Homo sapiens: one gene and its partners. The protein of the gene in region 2 interacts with the protein of the main gene of each other region in a pairwise test. Each region holds a gene or a part of one and is shown on either strand. Other genes may lie near its edges.

Region 1 (7,025 bases), on a different chromosome or scaffold from region 2:
TCATAATGCCAAAAAGCATGCCTGTACCTATGGGCAGTCACTCTCCAATTCCCCACTTCTTACAGTCTCTGACAACCACTAATCTACTTTCTCTATATATAGATGTACTTGTTCTGGGCACTTAATTCAACAAATGGTCCTGGGACAACTAAATATCCACATGTAAAAGAATCAAGTTAGACTCCCTCCTCGCACATAAAAATTAACTCAAAATGGATCAGAGACCTAAAGGTAGGTGGTAAAATTATAAATCACTTAGAAATAGTAAATCTTTGTAATGTGGGATAAGCAAAGTTTTCACAAATATGACTGAAAGCACAAGCAACAAAAGAAAAAATAAATTGTATTCCATCAAGTTAAAAACATTTGGGCTGAAAAGTATATCATCAAGAATGTGAAAAGACAGTACATAGAATGACAGAAAATATCTGCAAATCATATTATCTGATAAGAGACTTGTATTTAGGATATATTTTTTAAAAACTATTACAGTTCAATATTAAAAAGATAAACCAATTATAAAGTAGGTAAAGGATCTGAACAGACATTCTCCAAAGAAGATACATAATGACTAATAAGTATATGAAAAGATGTTGAAAATCATCAACCATCAGGGAAATGTAAATCAAAACCACAATGAGATAAACACTTCACATTACAGATGAATATAATAAAAAAGACAGACAATAACAACTGTTGATGAGGATGTGGAGAAACTGGAATTCTCATACACTGCTGGTTGGAATGTAAAATAATGTACCCACTTCAGAACAGTCTGACAGTTCCTGAAAAGGTTAAACAGCATTACCATCTGACGCAGCAATTCTGCTCCTAGGTATATATCCAAGAAATATGAAGATAAATGTCTACCAAAAAATTATACAAGAATGTTCATAACAGAATTATTGATAATACTCAAAAAGTAGAAGCAACTCAAATGTCAATCAACTGATGATGGATAAATAAAATGATAAAATGTGGTAAATCCATATGATAAAATATTATTCAGCCATAAAAAGGCACAGAGTACTGACAAATGCTACCACATCAATGAACTTTGAAAACCTCATGCTAAGTGAAAGAAGCTGTCATAAATTACTACATGCTGCATGTTTCCATTTGTATGAAATGTCCAGAAGAGGCATTTCTGGAACAGAAACTTTACCCAATTGCAGTCCATATGTTTTCTGGGATCCCGGAGTTCCCTTTCAACAATGTAAAATACAAACTTAGGTCAAAAGTTCCCATGTCTGAGAAAACTCAAGCCAAATCAGTTCTCCTCCAAAGTTGACAGGATTTATGCTTTAAAAATACAGATACAGAATTCTCTTTGGAAAGATCTACCAAATTCCTGTAAGAAACAGTCTACCCAAAGTAGGGGAAAGGCTATATGAAAAGTTACAAGGCACTTCTTAAAAATATATCTTAGGTTTTTAGGGAAAGGTAAACAGACAAGTTTCCAGACCCGTGGGTGGAATGGATGTAGCAGATTCACTGAGAGGCTCACAGCACCGTACTAAAGGGAGTCTACTGCTTAAAGCCAATTCACATCCTTAAAAGGTCAAATGGAGAGAAATTAAACTTGGGAGAAGCATTTTAAGACTGTGCTGTTATAAAACCTCGGGCCACTTAACTGATTAATCATGGCAATGAGGGCAGGGACCAGAAAAGAGTCTTTAGAACCTGTCATCCCCACACAGAAGAGCAACTTTCAGGGAAACACCCTTATCTTTCCATTTTCAGACCCCGGGAGGTGTGAGGGTGGAAAGGCTAGGTAGAGAAGAGAGCAGAAAGGAGATGAGATGACACAACCAGGATTCTCCGAAGCTGGGCTTGAAGTCCTCAAGAAAAACTCCCATGAACAAGGAAGGAAGAGTGAAGAAAAAAACAGGGATACCTGGAACTGGACAAAAGTAAAAAGATAGAAGGATACTTTTTTTCCCCCAGAAGAAGTCTGTCACAAAAGCAAACCTGCAAATATACGATCAGTATAACACCCAAGAAAATGACACATGCGGCCAGGCATGGTGGCTCATGCCTGGAATCCCAGCACTTTGAGAAGCCGAGGCAGGTGGATCACCTGAGATCAGGAGTTCGAGGCCAACCTGACCAACATGGTGAAACCCCATCTCTACTAAAAATACAAAAATTAGCTGAGCATGGTGGCAGGCACCTGTAGTCCCAGCTACTTGGAAGGCTGAGACATGAGAATAGCTTGAACCCGGGAGGTGGAGGTTGCAGTGAGCCGAGATAGCACCATTGCACTCCAGCCTGGGAGAAAGAGCGATGCTCCGTCTCAAAAAAAAAAAAAAAAAAAAAGAAAAGAAAAGAAAATGACACATGCCCCCAAGTGTGAGAATGCAAGAGGGAATCCCTGACCTATCCCTATCCAACCAGTTTTCTTGGCACACACCTTCCATTCTCTGAATGAGCCCAGATTAACTCACTGACCCCTGTGCCACGTATCTCCCACTCCATCACCCGCCCAGGCTCACTGCTTCCACCTGCGTCCCTTCATATCTCCCTACTGACCTCCACTTTTTTCTAACTTTGTCATCAAAGAAGTCACAGAAATAAATAGGAGGATTCAAAAAGAATAATTTCAGTACATTTAAAAAATTGTAGAATATAGGATTCTCATCTATGTTTATCACGTTCATTCATTTTTCAAATTTTCATTGTGGCACCATTTTATGACAGGCACTATGCTGGGGATGCTGGCGACTAGGGTAGGGAGTTAAAATGAGAGTGTCTACTTGGAAAGATGAACAGATAAATAATCACCGTGATAAGTGCTGTGCTAGAGATATGCAGATGTCAAAAGACCTTAGAAGGTCTACAATCCACTTGGAGGGTAGGGAATATAGAAGGCATTTCAGTGAAATAGGGTGCCTTTGACAAATCATTAAGAATGAGTTCTACATTAAAAAGGGGAAGAGAGGGTGATAGCTGAGGAGGCAGCATAGGCAAGAACATCCAGCATGAAAGAACAGTGAAGGACATCAGGAACATCTTTCAGGAACATCAGGTAAAACAGACTTAGGGCCCAAGTCAAAGGAGCTAAAATAATACACCCTGGAAAGTGGTATGATCATTTCTGCATCTGCTCCAGAGAAACCTGCCAAAATATGATTAGCATAATACCCAAGAGAACATCACATTCCCCATGTGTGAAAATGCAAGAGGGAGTTATTTCTAATAGTTCATAAGCTCAGCAACAACAGAGTAGACACAAAAGCCATAGAATGTGCTTAGGCTTTACTTTAATGATATAGGGATATCACATATCATCAGCCTGTGGAGTACAGAGGTAGTTTACAAAGGATAAACCTTCATTGTTTGGAAAGGAAAGATCAGAGAGCTCTTTATGAAGTTTAAACAAAATCAGAGAAATAAAGAGATGTGGGAAAGAAAGAAAAAAAAGAAAGTACATTGAGGACAGTCCAATCTAACTGTGAACTCATAAGGGACAGCCAGTAAATTCAAAACAGCCTACTGTTTTTTGATTACTTGTGCTACTCTATTAAAATAGCCACAAACACAAAACTAGTCTACCTCTTTCTCTCCCCATTATTGGCCCTAACCCAAAAATAGTGGGAGTAAATGATTTAATAATTTATTTTCATGCTCCATTTTGTTCTTAAGTTAAAATTACTGTGGTTGGTGCCCCTCCTTTAGCTTCTGCTAAAGACTTTACATAATGAAAGCTCATGAAGTGTCTGGATTACTAACAGTTACTTATCCAAAAAGATGAGACATGGTTCATTGATTTGATTCTATTAGTTCTCTCTTGAAGATATTTTTCTCCTCCCTCTGTGAAGAAACATTTCTTTCTGTGTCATACAAGAGGAGTCATTTTTGTAGTTTTAATTCCCTCTTGAGTCCTACAATAATACTAAAATACTCACAGTGACTACAGTATCCTTTGCAGGGAAAAAATTGTAAATTAACCATTTAAATATAGTCACTAAGTTATGTGGCATTCACTGACTCAGAGTTGAAAAAGACTCCAAAATTCTTATCCAGTATTAGAGTATACAAGGACAAAAGGAGAGGCCAAACTAAGTCTAGGACGCACAATACAAAGAAGAAAATGAGAAGACCAAAGTTACAGTCTCAATACTATGACATGATACTAAACCATACAGTCAGTCAGCCAATATATATTTGTGGGCCTAGTATATACTGGGCACTGTTTGTAGGTGTTTGGGTTACATCAGTAAACAAAAACAAAGATACTAGTTTTCATTCTGGAGAGGGTAAGAGGCAGTAGAATTTGGAAAAGACAGACAATGAACAATAGACATAATGAAGTAAATTATATAGTATAAATTATATAGTAAGAAGATAAGAGTTACAGAAAAAGAAAACAAAAAGTAGACCAGGGTTAGTAATTAAGGGGGTGGGGGACAGTTACAATTTTAAATAGGGTGGTTAGAGTAACCCTCAATTAGAAGTGCCAAGACGTGAAATGCAGTGGAAGCAACCATTTGAAAGTTGCAGAATACTTTAACAAGCTACTTTGCCTCCTGCTGACTTTGTTTCCCCATTTTTAGAACTGAAATAATAATTCTCATCAAATAAGGGTGCTATTTACATTGAGATAGTGACTATTACTATAAGTAACATTTTAGTCTCTTGACAAGCATGGGAAGCAATGGAATGAAGGGCAATGGAAGGAAGGGCACTGCATTATGAAAAGGACTTTTTAAAAGAAAACCATCTCCAGGCACTATTCCCCTTTGTGGAAATGAAGAGAATATTTTCTGAACTCCACCTGGGACATATGAACAATGAGCATGAAATCTTACAAACTGTATAAATAACATTTATTCACAGTGTCACTGCATCATCTATTGTTTTGAATTCTCTTTAAATTTCCTTCTATATATTTATCCAAAGCTGAAGTCATCTGGTTTAGATTATGGGACCCTGAAAAGCAAGAACTAGTCTATGTAACTACTTTTAAACATCTGCACAACGCCATACACACACACACACACACACACACACACACACACACACACACACACACACACATATTGATATGTAACAAGTACTATTTGATTATAATTAGGAGTGTCTTGGTTTTCTTATAACATGAACATATATTTTTAACCCAAACAGCTTAAAGCATTTAACGAAAAGTTTTACACACCTACAAAGTGCTTTCAGGAAGCAGATGTGCAGTGCAATGTGGCGCAGTAAGATGCACAAAGCAAAGGCTTTGAAAATAAACTGCCTCGGTTTCAGGACCCAGCCTAACCACATATTAGCTGTACAACTTTGGGTGAATCACTTAACATCTCCAAACTTCAGTTACTTCATGTGGGAAGACTTGAAAAATAATACCTGGTCCCAAGATTTTTGTGTAATTGAGCTAATAAGCATGGAAGTACCTGGCACAGTTCCTGAGTCACCAAAAAAATGTTAGTTTTCTCTTCATCGAATCTCCCCATTCCCACCCCTCATGCTAATCTCCCCTCCCACACACACACACACCATCAGTGAGTAAATAAGTGTCTTGCGTTAAACTACAACCAGAGAATAAGAGACAGCCAAGATTTCCTTACTCTATTTCACTAGCCCTGGCAGCCTCTCAGCTGCGGAATCCTTGGTTATTTCCTTTCTCAAGGAGGAGATACTATTCTAGTTTGACAGATCCTTTCCTGGACACACTCTCAGAATTCCCTAAGGTTCTTATCGTGGCTAATGGATAACAATGCAGAGGCTATGGGAGTGAATAATCACTCTCTCTCAGCTAAAAACTTCCTTTATTGACTTCTCTAACTTCCCGTCAACATCTTGCTGCCAAATCAACCTCTTGTTCTAGGCAATTATTAAAAGCAATTTTCTTGAAACTGAAAAACACATTTAGCCTTCAACAATAAATCACACTAACATCAATTACTAGCCAATTAGATTACTAGAATATCAGACCCAGAGATATTTGCAGTGTTGAAATATTTTCAAAATAAAGTTGTTTACATTTCTATTTCTGTCTTTAATCCTTAAAATGCAAACAAATACAGGAGTGAAGACAGATGTATTTTAGTTATTTCTTCTACAAGATAAAGTGGATAGTAATATTATGTTAAGAAAATACTTATTTAGTATCTAGAATGATAGCATTATCTATTCTTTATTAAAAGAGAAACTAAAAGTAATATAATTAAATAGCTTGTTCTTGTGACTTAAATAATATAAAATTTTCATTTCAATTATGTGACAATGCTTTGTATAGCTGTATTCCAAATACATAGCATGGTGCCTAGAACATAGCAGGCAGTCAATACATTTTTACCAAATGAAATGAATAAATTACCAGTTGATTTTATACTGAGGACCAAACTATGACCTTTAATCCCTCCAAAATAAAACACACAATCCCATTATATGTGAACCATATCCACAATACCAGAATCTAAGATTCCCACTCTGAAAGAGTAACTAGAACAACTTCTTTTTGAGGCAATTCTGCTTACTTAGCACATTACTCCCCCCTACAGTTTTCCTTCTTTTGTTTTTGTACTAAGGATATTTGTATAAAAACAGGATCTTTGTTGCTTAGTAATTCATCTGATTCAGCTGCTTGTATTCTGTTCCCAATCAAAATTCTTGGTTTTCAGCCTCCTCATCATTTTTATAAGGAGTTGAATGAATTGGTCAAGCTTGTTCCTTTCTCCCTCTCCATGGAACACCAGGCCCCAAGCTCCCCGACACTGCTCCTCTTTTTATTTCTATCTTTGGGTTGTGTGTACACTCTAGAACACTTGTATCAGTGAAGAGTGTAACAAAGTATTGTGCCACGCATAGTCTCTCATATATCATCTATCAGCTCATCAAAAAGTGCTCACTGATTAACAGAGGATCCCCTCCTCAGTTTCAGAATTCTCTAGCTTTAAGTTAGGGGAGGGTTACCCCAAAGTCAGAGAGGGTACATGGGAGAGGGTTGTGAAGGCCAGTAGCCCAGAGAAAATCAAGGGCAGCTGGGTGCATTTAGGTGGATAAGAAAACAATGAATT
Region 2 (7,025 bases):
TTCCGCAGCCAGCACGTGGCCACCCCTCCCAGGGGGGGTCCGGAGGCCCTGAAGCCACCTGAGCTAGGGCCTTCCAGAAACAGGGTTCCGGGGGCTCCAGGCACCTGTCCCTCCCTCCCTCCTCCCAGCATGGGGCAGAGCACCGAGGCTGGTGGTGGGAAAGGCAGCTGTGGGTGCGGCCATCTCCCCGTGGGCGTCCTTTTGGCAGAGAAGCGGGCGGTGGGCGGCCTACGCGCAGTAGGTGTCTGCCTTGACCACTTGGCAGTACATGGTCATGGCGAAGGTCAGGCCCAGGATCTGTAGGTAGGGGAGGAGGACTGGGCATGGCAGCTCCACAGGCTCAGGCCTCAAGCCCAGAGCAGTCCCTGTCCTCAGCAGGTGCCCTGGCCCTGACCCCGACCCCAGGGTGGGCGACACAGTGGCAGAGCCCTTCAGCTTCCTGGTGGCTTGCACGCCCCACCCAACCCCTGTGGCTCGAGCCACAGCACCCTCCCCTGAGCCTTGCAGGCATGAGGACACCCAGAACTTCCTGAGGGCTGTGGAGTTTGGAAACCAGGGGCCACTGGCACCAGGGCCCCAGCTGCCACCCTCTGTGCACTGGCCAGTCCTGGGCCACCGACCAACATGGACGACCACCGGCCTCCACCCCACACCAGCCTCTGCCTCTGTCCACTAAGAGGGAGCCCACTGTCCCCACAGGCCGTCCCTGCCCATCCCCCTGAACTCGCCCTCCTGCTTTTGCCCCGGCCTCCCCCGATCGTGGGTTCCTGGGGGCAAGGTCTTTGCTACTTTGTTCCCTGGGCTCAGAAGGTCCTAACAAAGTGGGGGCAGGGAGCCCGCAGGCCCCCAGGCCATACCTGCACCAGCGCCGTGCACAGCCCAAAGATGCCCACAGCCAGCAGGTTCTCCTGAAGCCACACCTTCACCGTCTCGTAGCACGGCTGCAGGGAGGGATGTCATGCGTGTCACGGCAGGGCCTGCTGGTCCCGCCCTCTAGGCCCCTACCAGCCCCCAGGGTGGGGGTCTCACTCACCGCCTTCCACCAGGTGCCGGGGGCGTGCAGCCCACAGCTCTCACTGAACTCCAAGCAGCAGGAGTCAGGTACCCGCGTGGCGTTGTACACCTCGAACCAGTCAGTGTAGTTGGAGACGCCACAGCAGCGGAACTGGGGGGCAAGCTCAGGTCGGGCTGAGGCAGGAGGGGAGGGGGCACCCGCCGACCCCGCCCACCTGCCCACGCCTCACGTCGGTCTGGATGATGCTCCAGGCGTTGGTGAGGCCCACGTTGCCCTGCGTGCCGTACAGGTGCAAGCCTTTCTTCAGGTCTTGCTGGGCATACCTGTCAATCTGGGGGTGCGGGGGGGGTCAGCAGGGCCCCTCCCACTGTACCCCGCCTCCCTCATCCAGACCCCCTCGCCGGCCCCTAAGCTGGGCCCCTCCTGCGCCTGGTCTTGTGTCCCCCGCGCCTCCTAGCCCACCAAGCTGCAGACACACCGGCCCCATGTCCTCCCAGCAGCCCTGAGGCCCAGGGCCCCCACCTCTGGGCTTCCTCCCCAGGCTGGGGGAGGACCATGGGTCCTGGGGGGACAGAGGACAGGGACACAGGTGCCTCCACGTATCGGGACACGTGCAGCCATGCTCTGTGAGCTGAAAGCCAGGGGCTATGAGCGCTGAGCCCACCCAGCACCCTGGCCTCGGTCCCCAATATTCAGTGAGGACCCAGAGCACCCTGGAGAAGGGGCTGATTCCTGGGCCAGGGCAGGGAATGAAGGAGCCTGGAGCGCCCTGCAGTGCCAGGAAGTCAGGACGTGCCCCAAAATGAAAAGTCTGTTGATGGGGGCACGTCAGGGGACCCAGCAGCAGACGGCAGAAGCTCCCCAGGGCCAAGGACGGACAGTGTGATTCACAAAACAAAGTAGTGTGTTCTAGCTCGGAGTGCAACCTCAATAGCCAGGACTTCATCCCAGTATAAACAAATGGCTGAATATATGAGTGAGTGACCAAGAAGAGGCCGCTCTACAGAGGAGAACCCCACGGTGCGCGGCCCGGATGGGGCGCTGGGAGCAGACGGCTCAGGACGCTGCGTCAGAGGGCGGGGGACAACCTGGGGCGCACCCTCCGGGTGGGGTAGCAGTGCCCTTGTGCCCCAGTCGCTATAGAGCCACAGCACAGCCTCCCAGGGTCGCTGGCGCTGCCCCTCCAGGCCTGGTAAATCCACACCCGCTGTCCTGGCTGCCCGTGAGGGCACATGCAGGGCCACTCTGTCCACACCGGGCCCACAGTGCTCCCTGGGAGTGAGGATGGAGCCCCCAGCCCTGCAGTTGGGCCTGCGGCCAAGGCAGCCGTACCTTGTCCGTGTAGGCGAAGAAGAGGATGGCGATGGTGGCCTCCAGCAGGAACACCAGCAGCAGCAGCAGGAAGAACTGTGGAGGGGGCAGGCTCAGACAGGGACCCGAAAGGCCGCACAGCCTCCGCCCCACAGCATGCCAGGGGCCAGGGCCACGTACCTCATGGATACCTGGTGCTGCCAGGAAACCTCTGCCAGGCCCCCACTCCCAGAGAGCCCAGAACGCCGCCCCCACCTCAGAACCCTTGGCCCCAGGTCCAGGGACTGTGGCTGTTGTGTCCTGCTCAGCCCCTGAGTGTGGGGCCCTGGGCTGGCCTGGGCTCCCCTCCCCTGCCCCCATCCCTGGGGCAACCCAGACACCCCCAAGTGGGCACAAATCCCTGTTCCTGAGGCCCCAGCCCCTGTCAGCTGCCTTCAGGACACCTCCATCCAGGGGCCTCTGAGTGTCTGGCAGGTGCCTCGCTGGGTGCCTGTCTTCATGGTGGGAAGATGTCCCAGCAGGGGCCACAGCTGGGCTGCAGAGGCCCCTTCTGCCCACACGTCACAGTCCTCAGGGCAGCCAGCGTGGCTGATGCCCCCTCCAGCAAGACCACAGGCTGCAAGCCCCACCTCTGACCATGCAAGCTTCCCCCGCCTGGCGGCAGCCCCAAAGCTCAGCCTGACCCCAGCCCTGCTGCTCCTCCATGCGGGGGTCAGTGACACCCACAAAAGAGGAGGGCAGGCATGGACAGCATGTGTCCAGGAGCTGGGGGGCCCAGGCAGAGTGGGCGTGAGTGGGGCAGACAGGGTGCTGGGCTAAGGACACAGGAGTCCTTCACCCCCAGGAGGTACCCAGGGTTCTGGTCCCAAGTCACCCATGGGAAAGGGGGTTGGGCTTCGGTCCCTGCAGGCCTGGTGGGGCCCACACACAGCAGCTTCCTCAACTGAGGAGCTCCAAGCCCCAGTAGGGCTGCCACAGACCCCCACCGACTGCCTCCAGGGGTCTCTGGGCCCCAACCTGATGCCAGGGAGGCTGATAGACTTGGGGCTTGCCCCCAGGAAGGGGTACGGAGGGGAGTGGACTGGCTGAGGCGACCTAAGGGAGGCCCCAACCCATCCAGGGCTTCCCAGACAAAGGAGTGATCGGAAGCCTCGTGATTTAGGACCTCAGCAGGCTGCACACCCTCCGCAGGGCCCACGGCCTCGGCCAGGCATGTTAATCAGTAGCAAGCCTGTGTTTCCATCTAGGAGCCCTTTTCCTTTTTAATTATCTGTGATTAACATTTCTAAGGAGGATAAACATATCCCTGCCTGTAAGTCCATCCCCGAGGCGAGGTGGGGGCTGGGATCGTCCCAGCAGCCGGTCCCAGGGAGCTGAGAGACCAGGCCCCCAACAAGAAGCTGGGGAAGGGGCCACAGTGGGGGTGGGGTGGTCAGGAATGAGTCACGGAGACCGCAAGCCCGTGAAAGGCTGCGCATGCGTGTGTACGTGTGTGCGGGGCTGTGCCTGCACTCACCAGGGCCAGTGTCCCGTCAGGGGAGGCCCCTGACAAGGTACAGCACGTTCTCTTGAGTGACCCCCACACCGCTCTGCAAATCACCCCCCAGCCCCAGTGTGGCCTGGAAGACCCAACAGTGGCCAGGGCCCCGGGCCACACTGCCAGCCTGGAGGTCCGGCCCCAGAGGTGGTGCCCACGTCTGGGGGGTCACTGCGGCAGCCAAGGCCTGGGGGCCACCGGAGCCCCACCCTGCGTGGTCCCACCCGGAGCATCGCTTGGGCCCCGGCACTCACAGTGAGCAGGAGGCACTTGTTCTCCTTGATGGCACCCAGGCAGCCCACGAAGCCGATGGCCATGACAAAGGCGCCGGTGATGATGAGCAAGTTGGCAGCCGACAGGGACGGGAAGGAAGAGGACAGCGTGGCGAAGCTCCCCTGTGTGGCGGCCAGCCAGATGCCGACACCCAGCACGCCACAGCCTCCCAGCTGGGGCACAGCAACAGGAGAGACACAGACAGGGTGAGGCCCCAATGCAAGCTCTGGACCCCAGGGCAGAGCCCGGCCCACAAGCCCAAAGCCATGCCGCCTGCCAGCCTGAGCCAGAACCACCCAGAGTCCTGCTAGATCCCACGGCAGCCCGGGGGGGTGTCCAGGGCAGGCCAGTCTTTCCCGACACCCTGGGCTGGCACCCCATCCCCAAACCCACACTCCATGGCCACAGTCGGGGAGGCTCCCTTGTGCCTCTGAACCACTCCCTCTAGGAGGGATCCGCCCAACCCCTGGCCTGGAGCCAAAGGGACGGGATCTTAGGCCCCAGGACGCAGTCTGCACACCCCTAACCCCGCTTCACCGTCTGGTCTGCGCAGGGCAGAAGGCTCACTCCCCACCTGACAGGCCACTCCAGCCTTTCCAGACTGTGCTGTCAGGGAGACCCAGCCCTGCCCTCACTCCGGGATGGGGCTTCCTGGCAGGTGGTCCCAGGATTCCGATTCCCAGCTCCCGACAAGATCTCTGTGATGTCCCCAGCTGTCCCCTGTCACTCGTGGCAGGAGAAACGCTGATTCCCTCACACTCTGCTCCTGGTTATGATTTCTTTCTTTTTTTCTTTTTTTGGAGATGGAGTCTCACCCTGTTGCTCAGGCTGGAGTGCAGTGGCACCATCTGGGCTCACTGCAACCTCCTCCGCCTCCCAGGTTCAAGTGATTCTCCTGCCTCAGCCTCCCAAGTAGCTGGGATTACAGGCATGCCCCCACCACACCCGGTTAATTTTTTGTATTTTTAGTAGAGATGGTTTAGCCACAATAGTCTTTTTTGTTTTTTTTTTGATACCGAGTCTCGCACTGTCACCCAGGCTGGAGTGCAGTGGCGCGATCTCGGCTCACTGCAACCTCCGCCTCCCGGGTTCACGCCATTCTCCTGCCTCAGCCTCCCGAGTAGCTGGGACTACAGGCGCCCGCCACCACGCCCAGCTAATTTTTTGTACTTTTAGTAGAGACAGGGTTTCACCGTGTTAGCCAGGATGGTCTTGATCTCCCAACCTCGTGATCCACCCACCTCGACCTCCCAAAGTGCTGGGATTCCAGGCGTGAGCCACCACGCCCAGCCGCCAGGATGGTCTTGATCTCAATCTCCTGACCTCATGATCAGCCCGTCTCGGCCTCCCAAAGTGCTGAGATTACAGGCATGAGCCACCGCGCCCGGCCAAGTTATGATTTCTTACAGCCACATGGGCACTGGTGGGAACAAAGCAGGCGGGTCCCACAGGAGCACCTGCCACCCGGAGGGCCACCTCCTGCAGTGTCTGTAACCGCCAGAGCTCTTACTGTGTTTCCTAAGTGCTTGTTCTTATAAAAATCAATTAAAACAGGAAGAGGCAGGGGGAGACGAGGGGGTGCTGCGCCCAGAGAGAGGGTGCTAGGCTGCTGGCCCAGCAAGGCCTCAAGGGAAGCAGGGGTCCGCCAGGACCCCACCTTCAGACAGAGGCCTCGGGCTTGGGCCGTTTCAGGATGAGACGGGAGATATGTTCCAGGCCTGGGCACGGGACAAGCAGTCCCCCGAAAATGCTGACCAGCTCCCGGTCTGCAGCGTGGGTGCCCAGGTGGGTGGTGGGTAGACGTCCTGGGGTGCCGACGGTTGACTGGTTCTGGGGAAGGGCCGCGCAGCCCTGGGGGATCCCTGCCCCACCCTGGACTGGACAGGACTTGGGAATGGGCTGGCAAAGCCACCCCTCAACCTGATGAAACCCCTTGGAGCACCCAGACCACATGCCTGAGGACAGGCTCAGACCCCAGGCTCTGGGGGTTCCCGGGGGACTACCAGAAGCCCCAAGTCACCCCATAAAAGCCTCCCAAGCCCCAGTGGCCAGACTCACACCCCACTTTCCAGACAGAAACCAAGGCTGGGATAGCTGCTGGCCACCAGCAGCCGCCCCACCCCCACCTGCAACACCAGCCCAGCTCAAGACAGGCCTGGGGCCTCCACCCTGGCAGGGCCCACGGAGGGCCCATGAGCCCCAACACTCTTGCCTCAGGGGGCCTGGGGGTGGGAGATGCCCCCTCCTCGTGTGCACGCTCACCTGCCCCTCCCTGAGCAGTGCATCAGCCAGCGCCAGGCTGGAGGTTGGAGGCCGCCACCCTTTTACTGGCTGGCTGGCAGGCAGGAGGCTGTGCTGGGGAGATGGGACACAGCTCCCTGCCCAAGGGCCAGCATGGCTGCTGGTGCCCCAAGATTCAGGCCAGGCCTGTCACTGGTGTCTTCGGTCCCTCTGGGCTCCACAGGGTAAAATCCCCTCAGAGCAGATTCCCCCCACTGCTGGGGCCCCACAAGTCCCACACACGCTCAGGCCATCCTGGGGAGAAGGCAGGCTCTGTCCTTCCCCGGCCTTCCAGAGGTAGCATCTCCGCTTAAAGTTCAAAACAGAACGCTGTCCGGAGGCTGCCAGCGCAGGACCTATCTTGGGAAGCTCTGCTGAGCCATTGGCTCCTGGTGCCTGCTGAGCTCTGACACCCACGCCCAGAGCCCCTCCCCAGCAGGCCAGGCACAGCGCACAGGGGAGCTGGACAGACTGGGTGCAGGAAGAGGGGTCACCCCTGTGCTCTGGGCCCCAGGATTGGGAGTACCGAGGCAGGGGCTGACTTGCTGGCTCTGACCACACAGCCCCTCGTGGCTGCAGGGAGCCAATAGGAGACCTGGGCACAGTGCC
Region 3 (7,272 bases), on a different chromosome or scaffold from region 2:
TAGTAGAAACAGGGTTCCACCATGTTGGTCAGGCTGGTCTTGAGGTCCTGACCACAGGTGATCTGACCTCGCCTTGGCCTCGAAAAGTGCTGGGATTATAGGCATGAGCCACCGCACCCCACACCAACCTAGAAAAGTTCAACTCATTTGTCTAAGCCCAGCAAAATCATCCAGAAGCCGGTGGCGGTGGCTCACACCCATAATGCCAGCACTTTGGGAGGCTAAGACATGAGGATCACTTGAGGCCAAGAGTTTGAGACCAGCCTGAGAAATATAGCAAGACCCCCGTCTCTATGAAAAATACAAAAATTAGTTGGGTGCGGCGGCATGTGCCTGTGGTCCCAACTACTCTGGAGACTGAGGCAGGAGGATCACTTGAGGCCAGGAGCTTGAGGCTGCAGTGATCTGTGATGGTGCCACTGCACTCCAGCCAGGGCGACAGAATGACACTGTCTCAAAAAAAAATGTCGGCTGGGCGCGGTGGCTCACACCTGTAATCCCAGCACTTAAGGAGGCTGAGGTGGGCGGATCACGAGGTCAGGAGATCGAGACCATCCTGGCTAACACGGTGAAACCCCGTCTCTACTAAAAATACAAAAAATTAGCCTGGCGTGGTGGCGGGCGCCTGTAGTCCCAGCTACTCGGGAGGCTGAGGCAGGAGAATGGCATGAACCCGGGAGGCGGAGCTGGCAGTGAGCCGAGATCGTGTCACTACACTCTAGCCTGGATGACAGGGCCAGACTCCATCTCAAAAAAAAAAAAAAAAAAATCATCTAGTGGTGATGGGACTTTGTAGGGCACCTCTTTAGTATCTCATGTGTGTCATGGGGAAATGGGGGGCTGTCCCCACTCTATGGAGACAGAAATGGAGGTTCAGAGACAGCCTTGGGTCACATGGGACCTGGGCCTATGCTGCTGACCGCCACCGCGGAGCCCCAACTCCGCTCAAGCAGTTGCCTCCTGTCTCCCCATCCTTGGCCGCCAGAAACTGGGTTTACAGGTCATAAGGGGGGGAAGTTTGTCCCATATATGGGAACTCACTTAATTCTTACCCCAACACACTATGATGGGGGCTGTAATTCTCCCTCATTTTACTTTATTTTATTGATTTTATTTTTGAGATGGAGTCTCACTCTGTCACCCAGGCTGGAGTGCAATGGCATGAACTTGGCTCACTGCAACCTCTGACTCCCAGGTTCAAGAGATTCTCTTGCCTCAGCCTCCTCAGTAGCTGGAACCACAGGCGCCCGCCACCACACCTGGCTAATTTTTGTATTTTTAGTACAGACTGGGTTTCACCGTGTTGGCCAGGCTGGTCTCAAACTCCTGACTTCAAGTGATCCGCCTGCCTTGGCCTCCCAAAGTGCTAGGATTACAGGTGTGAGCCACCATGTCCAGTCCTCTCCCCATTTTATAGGTGAGGAGACTGAGGCTCAGAGAAGTAAAGCTACTCACCTAAGATCCCACAGCCTTCAAGCGGCAGAGCTGGGATTTGAACCTCGGCCATCTGGGTGTGGAGCCTTATTATTCACCACTTTGGCAGGTGTCTCAGTGGCTTACTTACCCTTGTTCATCCCACTGGTGCTCGGCTGCTGGCTGGCCCACAAACATGTTCTCATAGTCGGGAGTGGAGGGGCAGGATGGCACGGCCACTTGGGGCTTGGGGGCGCTCCGGCTGCCGTACCGTGGCTGCAAGCCTAAACCGGGCTTGGGCCCATCCTGAGCAGCCCAGGGTTTGTTCAGCTCCCGGCTTCTGGCCACTCGGCATCGCCAGAGTCTCCAGGCCAGCACAGGGCCAGCGATGGCAAGTCCAAGAAGCAGGCACCCGCTGACCACCACTGCCCCGATAGTTGCAGAGGCCAGGCCAGGGGCGCAGCTGACCTCCAGGAAGGCAGAGAGGTTGTGCTGGGAGCTGGTTGTGTCCCAGCAGAGCAGAGGCTTCTGGCCAGAGCAGTTGTCTCGGCGGATGTCGTGCCAGGACTCCAGGGCACAGTTGCAGTCGGCCTGCAGGTCAAGGTCACAGCGGGCGGCCAGCGCCCCATCCACACGAGACAAGGGGTTGCGTAGCACGTTCAGGACCTCAAGCTTCTGCAGGTGGGCAAAGAAGGTCACTGGAAGCTCTCGCAGGCCGTTCCCAGACAGGTCAAGGAGAATCACGTTGCTGGCCCGCAGAGACTGGTTGTGAGGCAGGCTCAGGCTGAGGCCACTGAAATTCAGGCACGTGGCACTGAACTCCGCGTTCCAGTCCACATCCGCGGAGGACACGGTGCACGACGGTTCTAGGCTGTCTGACTCCCGCAGCAGCAGCGGCAACAGCAGCGTCCATGCCAGGGTGCCCCCCATTCAAGCAACCTACGTAGAGACACCGGAATCCTAGCCCTGACCTCAGCCCTGTGGTCGCCCTCGCCTCCACCGCCAGTGTTTATTATTATAGCTCAGACCAGCTCAAGCCGCTTCTGAAATGGTAAAACGCAGCCCCAGTCTGGTCGCCTCCTTTGGCTGGTGGGCTGCCTCAGTCTCCCCTTCTGGGGAATGGGTAGATAACCCCAGTGCTTAGCGGGCTTGGAAGGCGAGGAGGAGATCCGGGCCAGTTAACCCCTTCTTCTATGTCCTGAACATTTGGGGCGCCCTCGTTGGCCAGGACGGGACCCTATGCAAATAAGCGGTTGCCTTGGAAACGGCCCCGCCCCCTGATCACGCTCCCGGTATCTCCCAGAACGGCGGGTCGCTGGGAAGTCCTGGGATAGGGTGGAGTGGGGGCTGCTGAAAGGGTCCTCCCAGGTCTGGTTTGCAGTCCCTGCACAGGTGCAAGTTCTAGAGCCTCAGTCCTACCTTTTGGGTCCCACTGCCACGCTTTTGCCTCTGCGATGCTGGAAAAGCGACGGCGCCCAGAGGCTGCGTCCTGGCCCACCTGGACACGGGGGCCGCAGCGGCCACGGCCAGCACCGTCCGCAGCGCTGCTGGGGTCGCTGGCGTTCCTCTGGCTCTGCACCCAGCGACTCAGGGGGAAGAGGAACTGGTGTCTGGGTGGAGTGCAGAGGGGAAGAATGAAGACAGAGATCCGCCCCCTTGCAGGGCCTCAAGGTTCTCACCAGAGGTGGATGGAGGGCAAGAGGGAGGGGTGGACCAGAGTCCCGCTTCCCTCTTGCTAGAACCCAGTGACTTCATGTCCTCTATTAGCACCCCAACCGACTGCCACCTCATCAACTCGCTTCTTGATCTCAGCTTGGCTGGTTCCCAGCTCATGCAGTCATTTATTCATTCAACAAGCATCACCCACGCTGGGCCCCCAAGAGGCCTCAGCCCTGACCAGGTCCTCAAGGAGCTATCTTAAGAGAGGACAGAGCTGGACATAGACACTCCTAGTCCCATGCAGTTAAGGAAGGTCCAGAGGGAAAGACAGGGTCCTGGAAGGCTTCCTGGAGGAGGAGGCATTACAGTTGGGGCTTCAACGCATGAGTAGGAGTTCACTAAGATTCCCCAAACCTATCATTGGCTCTCCAAGCTCCTCCAAGCCTCTCCCACTGAGTTCTTGCACAGTGGCACCTCTATGCTGGAGGGGACAGTGAGGAGGGCTCCCAGCAGCTTGGGAAAATGTAGCTGGCTGGGATAGCATGGTTAGGAGTGGAGAGGATAGAAGGAATTGGTGGTGGGGGAAGAGGTCCATGTGGAGCCAAGGCAGGTGCGTGGGCAGAGGGGCACTGGCTCAAGAAGTCCCTCTGGAGTGAGCCTGGTGTCTGGGGTGGGCAACTTGGGGAGGAGGCTGAGGTCCCAGAAGCAGATGGGGGCCTGAGGCAGACTGGAGGGGTAGTAGTGACAAAAATGATACTGAGGAGGGGTGGGCTGGGAGAAGGCCTCACCTGAACCTGGTGTCAGGTGGACCAGGTACAACCTATGCCAGCCCGACTCACTGTGCCACCTTAACTGCGTGTGACACCATGTCCACAGCTGTCAAATGCACAGAGGCTTCTCCGGGATCTGGGAGGCTGGGAGTCCACTCCCCCACGTTTTCCCCTCTTTTCGGCCTCTGTCCTTCACATCGCCAAACTCCAAGAAATGGTCAAAGGCTTTGAACGGAGACCTTGAAGAAAAAGCGGGAAACTGCTTTTCAACATGTCCAGAGATGCTCATTCTTGCCAGGTGCAGTGGCTTACACCTGTAATCCCAACACTTTGGGAGGCTGAAGTGAGCAGATCGCTTGAGCCCAGGAGTTCGAGACCAGCCTGGCCATCATGGTGAAACCCCGTCTCTACTTTAAAAAATACAAAAATTAGCCAGGTGTGGTGGTATGTGCCTGTAGTCCCAGCTACTCAGGAGGCTGAGGCAGGAGAATTGTTTGAACCCAGGAGGTGGAGGCTGCAGTGAGCCAAGATCACTCCACTGCATTCCAGCCTGGGCAACAGAGTGAGACCTGTCTCAAAAAAAAAAAAAAGTTCACACTTAATAAGAAAACTGCAAATCACAAACTGTTTGTCTTCACCAATCAAATTGGCAAAAATCCAACAATGCAATGACATTCTGTGCCAGCCAGGCTGTGGGGTGCGTCCATGGTGTAGCACTGGTGGAGGGCACCCTGGCACAGGCCACCGGAATGATAAACTCATGTGCCTGCTGACACAGCAAGTCCACTTCTGGGAATCCCTGCCTGAATATTTGCATGTTTACAGTGTGAACTGACTAACGAATAAAAAAATGTGGCTCAGCCTGGACGTGGTGGCTCATGCCTGTAATCCCAGCACTTTGGGGGACCAAGGTGGGCGGATCACGAGGTCAGGAGTACCAGACCAGCCTGGCCAACATGGTGAAACCCCGTCTCCACTAAAAATACAAAAATTAGCTGGGCATGGTGGCACGTGCCTGTAATCCCAGCTACTAGGGAGGCTGAGGCAGGAGAATCGCTTGAACCCAGGAGGCAGAGGTTGCAGTGAGCTGAGATCATGCCACTGCACTCCAGTTTGGGCGTTAGAGCGAGACTCCATCTCAATAATAATAATAATAATAATAATAATAATAATTTAAAAATTAGCTGGGCATGGTGGCTTCAGCCTGTAGTCCCAGCTACTTCAGAGGCTGAGGTGGGAGGATCCCTTGAGCCCAGAAGGTTGTGACTGCAGTGAGCCGTGATTGTGCCACTCCACTCCAGCCTATGCAGCAGAGCAAGACCCTATCTCTAAAAAATAATTTAAAATAAATGGCTGGGCCGGCCGCGGTGGCTCATGCCTGTAATCCCAGCACTTTGGGAGGCTGAGGTGGGCGGATCACCTGAGGTCCAGAGTTTGAGACTAGCCTGACCAACGTGGAGAAACTCCATCTCTACTAAATACACAAAATTAGCCGGGTGTGGTGGCGCATGCCTGTAATCCCAGCTACTTGGGAGGCTGAGGCAGGAGAATCACTTGAGCCTGGGAGGTAGAGTTTGCAGTTGAGCCGAGATCACGGCACTGCACTCCAGCCTGGGCAACAAGAGCAAAACTCCATCTCAAAATAATAATAATAAATAAATAAATTGGCTAAAATGTTCAATTTTATGTTGTGTGTATGTTGCAGGTTTGTTTTTTTGAGAAGGCAAAGTCAGGCGTGGTGGCTCACACCTGTAATCCCAGCACTTTGGGAGGCTGAGGTGGGCGGATCACAAGGTCAGGAGACTGAGACAATCCTGGCCAACGCTGTGAAACCCTGTCTCTACCAAAAATACAAAAAATTAGCTGGGCGTGGTGGCATGTACCTGTAATCCCAGCTACTCGGGAGGCTGAGGCAGGAAAATCACTTGAACCAGGGAGTTGGAGGTTGCAGTAAGCCTAGATCGCGCCACAGCACTCCAGCCTGGTGACAGAGCGAGACTTCATATAAAAAAAAAAAAGAGAGAGAGAGAGAAGGCAAAAAGATGCTCCAGGCTCAAAGTGATTCATTGCAGCATTGTTTGTTACATGAAAAAAAATAAAATGGGCCGGGCACAGTGAGTCATGCCTGTAATCCCAGCACTTTGGGAGGTCAAGATAGGAGGATCGCTTGAGCCCAGGAGTTCAAGACTAGCCTGGGCAATATGGTGAAACCCCATGTCTACCAAAAAAAAAAATTTTTATATATATATATAGATAGATATACACACACACAAAAATTAGCTGGGAGTGGTGGCACATCCTTACAGTTCCAGCTACTCGGGAACCTAAGGCAGGAGGATCGCTTGAGTCTGGAAGGCAGAGGTTGAAGTGAGCTGAAATCGTGCCACTGCACTCCAGCCTGGGGTGACAGAGTGCAGAGTGATCCTCTGCCTCAAGAAGAAGGAAAAAAAAAAAAAGGAAATAACTTAAAGGATTGGTTACATTAGTAACAGTTCAGTTCATCCATCCTAGCATGCCACAAAGTTCTGAAAATGAAATTATAAATCTCTATGAACCTATAAGGAAAGACTCATTCATTTCCTCTGTAAGCCTTTATGAAGTTCCTGTTGTATACCAGGTACTATGAACCACAGACACAGCAGTGAATAAAACAGACAAAAATCCCAGCCCCCCCTCCCCCCACCTCTCACTGTAGTTGGGGAAACAGACAACAGGCAGAATCCATCGGGAAAATATATCAAGTGCAGGTGGTGGGAATGCTGCAAAGAAAAATAAGGGCAGGAAATGAGATGGGAAACTTTTATTTATTTATTTATTTATTTATTTATTTATTTATTTATTTGAAACGGAGTTTTGCTCTTGTTGCCCAGGCTGGAGTGCAGTGATGCGATCTCGGCTCACTGCAACCTCCACCTCCCGGGTTCAAGCGATTCTCCTGCCTCAGCCTCCCAAGTAGCTGGGATTACAGGCGCATGGGACCATGCCCAGTTAACTTTTTGTATTTTTAGTAGAGACGGGGTTTCACCATGTTGGCCAGGCTGGTCCCGAATTCCTGACCTCAGGTGATCCACCCTCCTCAGCCTCCCAGAGTGTTGGGATTACAGGCGTGAGCCACTGAGCCTGGCCGCAGAAGCAACTTTTCAATGGGATGATCAAGGAACCCCTTAGGGAGTAAGGAGGAAGGGATGTGGGGAACAGCATCCAGGAGTGGGAACAGCATGTGCAAAGGCCCTGTGGTGGGAGCAGCCCTGGGTAGAGAGCAGATGTCTCCAAATGTTTGTTCAGGCTGCTATAACAAATATGCCGTAAACTGGGGTAGCTTATGAACAACAGTTCCGGAAGCTGGGAAGTCCAAGATCAAGGCACCAGCAGATTCACTTCCTAGTTTGCAGATGACCGTCTTCTCACTGTGTCCTCAGTAGACAGCAGA

The links.
Region 1: the proteins of TSPAN4 (region 2) and NOTCH2NLA interact in binary tests that used the Homo sapiens proteins (3 or more experiments, as listed by UniProt).
Region 3: the proteins of TSPAN4 (region 2) and LRRC25 interact in binary tests that used the Homo sapiens proteins (3 or more experiments, as listed by UniProt).

Annotation. Positions count from the first base shown.
Region 1 is NC_000001.11:146,149,020-146,156,044, forward strand, and holds part of NOTCH2NLA (notch homolog 2 N-terminal-like protein A), read right to left. Parts: 3' UTR 1-7,025.
Region 2 is NC_000011.10:859,834-866,858, reverse strand, and holds part of TSPAN4 (tetraspanin-4), read right to left. Parts: intron 4,310-7,025; coding exon 4,118-4,309; intron 2,423-4,117; coding exon 2,348-2,422; intron 1,347-2,347; coding exon 1,245-1,346; intron 1,166-1,244; coding exon 1,034-1,165; intron 942-1,033; coding exon 858-941; intron 298-857; coding exon 229-297; 3' UTR 1-228. UniProt on the Homo sapiens protein: Structural component of specialized membrane microdomains known as tetraspanin-enriched microdomains (TERMs), which act as platforms for receptor clustering and signaling.
Region 3 is NC_000019.10:18,394,621-18,401,892, forward strand, and holds the start of LRRC25 (leucine-rich repeat-containing protein 25 precursor), read right to left. Parts: upstream 3,003-7,272; 5' UTR 2,344-3,002; coding exon 1,565-2,343; intron 1-1,564. UniProt on the Homo sapiens protein: Plays a role in the inhibition of RLR-mediated type I interferon signaling pathway by targeting RIGI for autophagic degradation.